3 linked regions of the Homo sapiens genome follow. The protein of the gene in region 2 interacts with the protein of the main gene of each other region in a pairwise test. Each region holds a gene or a part of one and is shown on either strand. Other genes may lie near its edges.

Region 1 (3,654 bases), on a different chromosome or scaffold from region 2:
CAGCCCGTGGCTCAGTGGAAACATGCCTGAAGGAGGGCCACCACACTGGAAGCTTATTAGCAGAAGAGCCAAGTGACAGCGGTCCCAAAATAGATCCCTCAGGCACTCTCATTTATAATGCCCTTGTATCTGAACTAACACTGCTTAAGGATTCTGAGTCACATTTAGCCTTAAACCACCCTTGTCAGCACAGCAGCTCTCAGCCAGCCACCAGGGAGCAAGCATTAGCAATGCATTATCACACGCGCTCTGCACGGGTGCAGAGCATGCCTGAAACACGGCCTCCCGAGGGCTCTCACCTCTCCAGGGCTTCACAGATGGGAGCCAGAGGTCAGGCAAAGTCCTTTCAACAAAAAGCCTGCCCTTTGAACCTCCTTGAGATGCACTTTATAGAAGGAGAATGAACAAAGGGAAGTCTGAGTTACCTTGGCTGCAAAGTAGCCCCGCAGACCAGAGCACAGCGAGGAAAGTGGGGTACGCATCTACACAGTTCTGGCTGCAGAATAAACAAACAAGGAGAAAAACAATCAGAGACCAAGTTAGTGCAATGTGGTCTGAAAATTACCTGAAAGTTGAAGTTAATAATCACCATCGTGCATGAAACATAAATCCCATTCGTAATTCCACTTACATCTACCCAATAAGATGGGGCAGCCAGCTGCCACCTGGGAAACAAACAATGGTATAAAGCAAACACATGTTCATAATCCATTAACTCTGTTCCTACGGTGATGCGTAAGGGAGACTTGGTTTCTTGATGTATTCCTCTGGCAGGGTTCCTGTTCCTGGCGGTGCCCCTGCGCTTCTTGGAATTGAAGAGTGAGCAATGCAGACAGAGGATGTGGCCACACTGGCATGGGGGTGGTCGGGGAGAAGAGCCCAACTAAGGAAACTTTTCTATCAGATCCACAAATCAGCCCAGGTCTGCAAGCCAGGCTGAGCAAAGAAGGGTGATCTTCAAATGTTAAAGACAACAAAGTCAACTCAAAAAAGCTGGTGCTCAGAAACTTAGCTTACTAAGAGGGTGATCACTGTATGCTGGGCACAGTCCTCACTCCCTGGAGAGTTCTCACTCTACCGTGGATGTTTTGCACCCTTCCTCTCTTTTTAACTCACCATATTCCTGTGAGTTCACATGATAACTGTATGAGTTTCCTCTTGCTGCTGTAACAAGTGGCCACAAACTGAGTGGCTTAAAACAACACGCCTTGTAATCCCAGCAATTTGGGAGGCTGAGGCAGGCAGATCACAAGGTCAGGAGTTCAAGACCAGCCTGGCCAACATGGTGAAACCCTGTCTCTACTAAAAACACAAAAAATAGCCAGGTGTGGTGGCAAGCACCTGTAATCCCAGCTACTCAGGAGGCTGAGGCAGGAGAATCACTTGAACCTGGGAGGCGGAGGTTGCAGCGAGCCAAGATCACACCACTGCACTCCAGCCCAGGCAACAGAGCAAGACTCTGTCTCAAAAAAACAAAAAACACCCTTTTACTATGGTTCAGGATGTCAGAAATCCAAAATAAATCTCAAAGGGCTATAAAGTCAAGATATTAGCAGGGCTGCAATCCTTCTGGAACTTCTAGGGGAGAAACCATTTCCTTGCCTTCTCCAGCTTCTAGAGGTCACCTGTATTCCTTGACTCAGAACCTCCTTCCAACCTGAAAGTCAGGGATGGCCCATCAAATCTTTCTTATTTTGAATGACTCTGACATCTACTCTTATGCCTCCTTCTTCCACATTAAAAAGACCCTTGTGGTTACATCAGGTCCTACCCAGATCATCCAGGATAATCTCTTTATTTTAAGGCCAACTGGCTAGCTGCCTGAATTTCCCCTTGCCATGTAACATAACATATTCACAGGTTCCTAGGATTAGGATGTGGGCATGATTGGTGAGGGGGCCATTATTCTGCCTATCACAATTGCTCTCATGTTTCCAATAAGGAACTCAGGCTTGGAGAAGCTGAATAACTTGCTCAGGGTCATCCAGCTAGGGAGTGGCAAAGCCGGGATTCACACCATAATCAGTCTGTCTCCAAAGCCATGTCTGTTAACTCTTCAACTATACTAAATTAAATCATAGGTGTCCTCCTGAGAAGTCTGCAGTCCAGATCAGGACAATAAATATGCCCATCCATGAAAAACAGTGTAACTAGACTTGAGAGGCATAAAAAGGGAGGGAAATAAATACAGAGGAAAGGTCACTTGACTAGGATTAAAGTCTCCATCCTGACTTTAACCAGCTGTTCACCATTGGCAAAACAATCTCTCTGGATTTAGTTTCCTTATCTGTAAAACTGAGAGACTGATTATAATTCTGAGGTCCATGTGAATTCTCACAGTCCATGGTCGAAGGTGGCAGTTCTCCAGGCATGCTCTCGGGACCAGAGGCGGCAGCAGCATCGAGAACATGTTAGAAATGCAAATGTTCACACCCACCTCAGGCCTTCAGAATTTAAAACTCTGTGTTGGGGCCCAGAAATCTGTTTTAACAAGCCCTCCATGTGATGCTGATGCCTGCTGACGTTTGAGAACCACGGGTTTCATGTGATTATATAGGTAAAAACAAAGATGCAATTTTCAAACTGCTCATGCAAACCATTAGGGTCTCATGCCTCAGTGGTACCACTGAGAACTTGGGAATGGCCAGCCCTTCATCTGTGCCCTGCAGAGAACCCAGAGAGATCAGGTTATCTGCGCCTCACCAATGGAATCTTCGTGGTCCTCTGATGGTCAAAAGATCCTTTTCTGGAGAAGTCTATGAAGGTAACAGATGAGAAACCTACCCTGGAATCCAGGCACAACCAAAAACCAGGAACAGGACAGAAAGAGCAGACCCCTGCTGACCTTGCAAAGTGCTCTGAATCCCAGAATTTCCACTGATCTAATGGACACGGTAGGAGCTCCAAAGGGCAGGAGGCCCCTACAAATTTATCACTGGGGTGAAGTGCTTAGTGAATAAACAGGTCCCCAAGTAACAATTGCAGCAGCTACTGGGCACTGGCATCACATCTATTCTTATATGTTACTAGAGGCACAAAATTGCAGCCTCAGGACTGAGAAAATATGATTCATTTTCCAGTTCAAGAAACTTAGAGAAAAAATTCCTTTTTTGGTTATTCGAATAACATTCTGTGTCTGATGGGGTAAAATATCTGGTGCTCTTATTGTTTAAAAACTTATTAGTACCAAAGATTTCCCCTGCTTCCTTCTCTTTCTCATGTTTCGGGTCTTTGGTTTGTTTTTAAGTAGCGATTTTGTCTGGGTTATGCAAAAGGAAAAAAATTCTTAATTGTCTAAGGGATTTGCTCATTAGAAATGTGAACTGCCTAGTGATTTGACATTGGGTCCGTATTCAACCATTCCTGACTATTAGTTCAAGTCACCTTCGTTCCTAATAAAACATGGTCAGCCTGGAGTTGAATGAAATTCTCCCAGCTGTAAGAAAATGGGTTCCTCCTGTGGATTTCCAGAATATTCTCAGAGCCTTGTTCCTGGCTCTGGCTCAAGCCAGTCCCTCTCGCCATCCAGGACTTCAAGTGCAGCTTCTACCCAAAGCTGCAAGCTTATGTGCCCCTCCTGGAGAGGGGGTTGCTGCTGGGCTGAATTCAAGTGGCTTTAGCCATGACAGCTGCCCAGTGGCTGCTCGTGTAGTC
Region 2 (3,524 bases):
CCCTGTGGCTTATTTCAGCAACCAAGGTCATATCTTGCCTGTCTTCCTCCTTGATGCCAAAAAGCCCCTGGCTTCTGAGCAGGTACCCTGTGCTGGCTGAGCACCTAATATCTAATAGGTGCTCAGTGAATGTTCACAAAGGCAGGTGGGCAGAAAACCCTTGCTTTTCTCTGGGACGGGCAGGGTAGTATAGGTGTGTGGTGAAGCAGGCCTTTCCTCCATCCGTGTGTAGAATTGGTGGGGTCGCCAAAGCCCTGCCCACACTGACTGCCTCTCTAAGGCCAGATTTCCAAGGAGGAGCTATCCTGGGGAGGCAGAGGATGCTGGTGAGAGCCCAGGGGCTCATGGAGTGGGAGAGCAATAGTTGTCCATCCAACTAGGTGCTCTGCCCAGGAGCTCAGGATTCCTTGCAGGTCAGTACCCCCCAGCTATCATGTGGTCCAGAGGACCCAGCACAGAGATGCCCACCAATCCCTACCCCTCTCAGGGCCTCAGTCATCCCACCTGTCAAGGGGGTACAATCTTTCCGACCCCACCCAGTTCACTGAGGCCAATAGAGCCAACAGCACTTCGGAAATAAAGACTTGGTGAACGCATCATACAAATAAATGGGGTTATTAGACCCAAGAGCAGGGTCAGAAGGAGAAACAGCAAAAACGGGGAGTAAGTGCCCAGGCTCCTGCCCCAAACCCCTTGAGGAAAAGAGAAACAGGTGTTGGGCAGGAAGAACAGCACCAACAGGGAGGAGAGAGAGGGGATTGGGTCCCGGCTCTACCACGGACCAGTCACTTTCCCCAGGACTCAGTTTTGTCACCTGTATAATGGGGGAAGCACAATCCTTGCCTGACTCCTTCCAAGAGCCTCAATTAGGCTTCGGTGAGAGAGTGGGTATGGAAGAGCTTTGCAAACTGTAAAGTGCAGTACACACATGCAGGCTAGCTGTGGCCCTGGGGCCCAGGCCCAGCTGGGCTCTGCGGAGTGGGTACAGTAAGTGTTGGCAATGAAAACACTGCTTGAGGCTGAGCCTGGCCCTTTGAGCACCCTCAGGTCCTCCACATCTGTTCCTCCTCTCAGGTGCCCACAACTTCCCTGGCACCTTTTACCCTGGGTGGCTGAGGCCTGGGAAGATGAGGCGCTCCTGGCCTGGGCTGGCCCCGCCTCCCACTCTGAACCCTCTGGTCACCTCTGCTCCTGATGATGATGAACAAATGCAGACCTGGTGGTGGGGAGCAGCCGTGCCCTGCACCCTCTTTTCCCTAGTCATCACCCTTTCCATGAGGTCTTGTGCGAGTCACCCCCATTCCTGGGTGAGGGTTAGAATGACCGGTGGTGATTTCTTCCCCACAGCACTCCAAGTGGATGAAGAGCAGCTCCTGCCCGCTGCTGGCAGCCTCAGGCCCAGGGGCCTCCACCCCGCAGAGGCCTGAGCCAAGCTCGCCATTCGCCCTGGGCTGGATCTCAGCTCCGGAAGGAGACGTCGAGAAGAGGCTGCCAAAGAGCCTGGAGGGGCCACTTCAGAGCAGCGCCTTGAAGAGGAAGGAGAGGGAGGCTCCACAGGAAAGTCCCAGGGCCAGGAAGAAGGTCATGAGGGCGCCGGCCACCTCCCTCTCGTGTGGCAGCACCTGCCTAGAACACCCGGGAACAGGAGCTCTTAGAAAATGCTGGGTCTAAATCTGGACCCAGCTCCACTGCCCTCTGCCCATCCAGTCTGGGCTCTGACCCAACCCCTCTGTCACCATAACTGGCCCCTTCTTTCCGGGCCTCAGTTTCCTGGTCTGTAAATGAGGCTGCTGGATAAGGATGTCTCTCAGGGCCTCTGAGTCTAACATGATGGGATTCCAGATTCCACAGCCTGCCCTTTCCACAGTGCTCTCAGCCTGTCTGCCCTGCCAGCTTCATTCTCTCTGGATTCTCCACTCCATTGCCCCTTGAGGAAATAGCCCATGACCTTGTTTTTGGTCAAAACCTTAGCTCTCCTTCAACTGAGAATTTTACAGTTAGATGGGCCCTGAGGGATGACAGTTCAACCCATTTTTTTTTACAGATGGGGAAACTGAGGCACATTGAGGCGGCCCCAGAACCAGTGCCTGGGCTACTTGGTTGGGCGGGTACCTCCCTAGCCCAGTTCTCTCCCCTGCAGTTAAGGCTTGGCCCAGTAGGGGGCGCCAGCAAGGCCTGCAGACAGCTAGGGTTGGGCTGGCCAGAAGCAGGATGGGCCGTCCCTCCATTGCAGGCGGTCCCTTCCCAAAGACTGAACCCACCTCCCTACTCCCAGCCCCCCACCCCACCCCATTGCCCCGGACCTGGGCGCCAGGCACATGGTGAGGGACACCAGGTAGCCATTAGAAACGGCAAAGAGCAGCATGAAGGTGATGAAGTAGGCATCCTGTGGGAAGAGGATGGGCAGCCGGGACCTCTGGGGCACGTGGCACAGCATGAAGAGGGGCACGAACAGGAACCGCAGGCAGACCAGCAGGGGCAGCAGCCGGCTGTCCTCGTCTGGCTGTGGTAGAAGCTGAAGTCAGCATGGTCCCTGGAGCCAGGTCTCTGCTCCAGGGCATCTCAGGACACCCATAGAGTACTTTTTTTTTTTTTTTTTTTAGATGGAGTCTCGCTCTGTTGCCCAGGCTGGAGTGCAGTGGCCCTGATCTCAGCTCACTGCAACCTCCACCTCCTGGGTTCAAGAAATCCTCCTGCTTCAGCCTCCTGAGTAGCTGGGACTATAGGCGCCTGCCACCACCATGCCCAGATAATTTTTATATTTTTAGTAGAGCCAGGTTTCATCATGTTGGCCAGGCTGGTCTCGAACTTCTGACCTCGAGTGTTCCACCTGCCTCAGCCTCCCAAAGTGCTGGGATTACAGGCGTGAGCCACCATACCCGGCCTCTATTTTTTTCATTAAAAATTTGTGTGTGTGTGTGTGTACAGACAAAGTCTCACTGTGTTGCCCAGGCTGGTTTTGAACTCCTGAGCTCAAGCGATCCTCTTGCCTTGGCCTCCCAAAGTGCTCGGATTTTAGGGGTTTTTTTGTTTGTTTGTTTTTGAGACAGAGTCTCGCTCTGTCTCCCAGGCTGGAGAGCAGTGGTGCGATCTCGGCTCACTGCAGCCTCTGCCTCCCTGGGATTACAGGTGTGCACCACCACACCTGCTAATTGTTATCTTTTTAGTAGAGACGGGGTTTCACCATGTTGGCCAGGCTGGTCTCGAACTCCTGACCTCGTGATCCACCCGCCTCGGCCTCCCAGAGTGCTGGGATTACAGGTGTGAGCCACCGCGTCCAGCCCCAGAGTGCTAGGATTATAGGTGTGAGCCACCACGCCTGGCCCACCCATAGGATAGACCCATCTGTCACCCCCTGACCTCCTCTGACCTGACCTACCTTGTGAGCCAGTGAGGGAGGACCCAGCACTGGGGCCTGGGCCAAGTCCACCCAGAAATCAGGGACTGGCCTGGGGCTCACCTCTGCCTCTCCCAGGCTCCAGCTTGTGCTCTCCACCGCATCTACAGTTTACGTACTCGGTTCC
Region 3 (2,637 bases), on a different chromosome or scaffold from region 2:
GCTTTGCCTCTCAACTCTACCCCTACCCCCACTCCCATTTTCTGTGTGACCTTGAGCAAAACACTTAACCTCTCTGAGCCTCTGATTCCTTGTCTGTAAAATAAGGGATAATCGTACCTCCTCTAGAGGGCTGCTGGGGGGACTAGACGGAATAATGATGTAAGGTCTCTAGCATAGTGCTTGGCACAGAATATAAATTCAATCAACAGTCACTATTGTTAGGATTGTTCCTTTGCCATTTCCATAAACACGTATCGAGTACCTAATACTACAAAGTACCATACCAGGTACTACATCCATTAAGAATGTTAATAATTAATCACGCTCATTTGCCATTGATTTTAAGTTTCCATTTTATTAGTGTCAGGTGGTTTTACCAATGGCCTCCCTTTCCTTCATGCTTACACTAAAAAAAGAACAACAGTAATGATTGTATGTCATGCTTTTCTGTGATGAGCCTTGATGTTTTTAACAGAATTTGATAGTTTGAGACATAAAAATTTTTGAAAAACCAACTCACGTTTCCAAACAAAAGTGAAAAGGAGAGCTGGATTCCAGCCCCGCCACCCCAGCAAATTGAGAAATCACCCCTTGCTGTGAGTCAGTGGGTCCCTATCCACCCTCTCCACCCTGTCCACTCTCTCCACTCTAACCACCCTATCCACCCTATCCACCCTATCCACCCTGTCCACCCTGTCCACCCTGTCCACCCTATCCACCCTAACCACCCTATCCACCCTGTCCACCCTGTCCACCCTAACCACCCTGTCCACCCTGTCCACCCTGTCCACCCTGTCCACCCTGTCCACCCTGTCCACCCTGTCCACCCTATCCACCCTATCCACCCTATCCACCCTATCCACCCTATCCACCCTATCCACCCTAACCACCCTAACCACCCTAACCACCCTATCCACCCTAACCACCCTATCCACCCTATCCACCCTATCCACCCTGTCCACCCTGTCCACCCTATCCACCCTATCCACCCTATCCACCCTATCCACCCTATCCACCCTATCCACCCTGTCCACCCTGTCCACCCTATCCACCCTATCCACCCTATTCACCCTCTCCACCCTCTCCACCCTATCTACCAAATACCATATGGATATCTCATGCATGGGAGCCCAGATTGGGTGGTCCTGGCCCTCATGGGTTGCATATGCTTCTTTGCTGCCTGTGCTGTAAGAACCATGCTAAGAACAGACCTGTGCCCCTGGGCTCTCAGCAGTGCATGTGCCAGGGAGCTGTGGGTGTGGAAGCAGCAGGAAAAACAGCTGTGCCAGGTCGGGGAGGGGAAGGGACAGAGAACCAGGGGCAGGGAAAGAGTTCCAAGCTCCTTGGCCACCGGCCACCATGTGCTCATGGCCTCCTCCCCGGCTGTCAGTTTCCCTATCTGTAAAATGAAGGTAATCAGGCCAGGAGTGGTGCACTCCTGTAATCCAAACACTTTGGCAGGCTGAGGTAGGAGGATTGCTTGGGCCAGGAGTTCAAGGCCATCCTGGGCAACATAGTGTCTCTACAAAAAAAAAAAAAATGTTTTTTTAAGTAGCCAGGCATGGTGGTATGCACCTGTAGTCTCAGTGACTCAGGAGGCTGAGGTGGGAGGATCACTTGAGCCCAGGAGTTTGAGGCTACAGTGAGCTGTGATTGTGTCATTGCACTCCAGCCTGGGTGACAGAGGAAGACCCTGTCTCAAAAAAGAAAAGAGAGAGGAGGGGGGAGGGGAAGGGAGGGGAGGGGAGAGGAGAGGACACAGAGGTAATTCAAGCCTTTCCAGCTTGAAAAGGAATCAAATGTGACAAAGAAGACAGATGTTTATGAACTGTACAGAACTGACTTGGAGAAAATGTTTTGAAAAAGGCCAAAACAGAAGAAAATGTGAAAGAGCTTTAAAATGTTCTAGCCCAGGGGCCTGGGGGCAGGGGTGCTGTTGGAACTGGGATGGATGGATCGGGGAGATCAGGGGAGCAGAGCCAAGATTCCCTCTAGAGTTAAGGGCAGATGGAAAGTGGTGCTTGGAGAAATGCAGGGCCACAGGGAGGCAAACTCAGGGTCTGCCTGATCCGTGTAAACAATAATTAAACCTAATCTTATGATCTAGTGACTTGTAAGAACAGCCACCACCTACAGCTACCTAGTTGTGCAAATGTTCACAATATTATGCTCATACTAATATACAAATGTTCACAATATTATGCAAATGTTCACAATAATATGCAACACTTAATTTGGCAAACTCCCAGGCTCAAGTGATCCTCCTACCTCGGCCTCCTCAGTCACTGGGACTAGAAGGTGCATACCACCATGCCTGACTAATTACAAAACCTTTTTTTTTTTTAGAGACACCATGTTGCCCAGGCTGGCCTTGAACTCCTGGGCCCAAGCAATCCTCCTGCTTCAGTCTGGCAAAGTGTTTGGATTACAAATAACTTACTACTTGCCAAGTTCCTTTCTAAGTGTTTTTGTTTTGTTTTGTTAATTTTTAAAAAGAGACAGCGTCTTACTATGTTGCCCAGGCTGGTCTCAATCTCCTGGGCCCAAGAGATCCTCCCACCTCGGCCTCCCAAAGTGCTGGGGGTTACAGGTGTGAGCCACCATGCCTGGCCCCTTTCTAAGTGTTTTACACATACT

The links.
Region 1: the proteins of SLC29A2 (region 2) and ALOX5AP interact in a two-hybrid assay, tested with the Homo sapiens proteins (one large-scale study listed by BioGRID).
Region 3: the proteins of SLC29A2 (region 2) and SERINC2 interact in a two-hybrid assay, tested with the Homo sapiens proteins (one large-scale study listed by BioGRID).

Annotation. Positions count from the first base shown.
Region 1 is NC_000013.11:30,748,894-30,752,547, reverse strand, and holds part of ALOX5AP (arachidonate 5-lipoxygenase-activating protein), read right to left. Parts: intron 497-3,654; coding exon 426-496; intron 1-425. UniProt on the Homo sapiens protein: Required for leukotriene biosynthesis by ALOX5 (5-lipoxygenase). Anchors ALOX5 to the membrane. Binds arachidonic acid, and could play an essential role in the transfer of arachidonic acid to ALOX5.
Region 2 is NC_000011.10:66,361,922-66,365,445, forward strand, and holds the end of SLC29A2 (equilibrative nucleoside transporter 2), read right to left. Parts: intron 2,504-3,524; coding exon 2,304-2,503; exon of another isoform or gene 1,627-2,303; coding exon 1,515-1,626; 3' UTR 600-1,514; downstream 1-599. UniProt on the Homo sapiens protein: Bidirectional uniporter involved in the facilitative transport of nucleosides and nucleobases, and contributes to maintaining their cellular homeostasis. Functions as a Na(+)-independent, passive transporter.
Region 3 is NC_000001.11:31,430,206-31,432,842, reverse strand, and holds part of SERINC2 (serine incorporator 2), read right to left. Parts: intron 1-2,637. UniProt on the Homo sapiens protein: Non-ATP-dependent, non-specific lipid transporter for phosphatidylserine, phosphatidylcholine, and phosphatidylethanolamine. Functions as a scramblase that flips lipids in both directions across the membrane.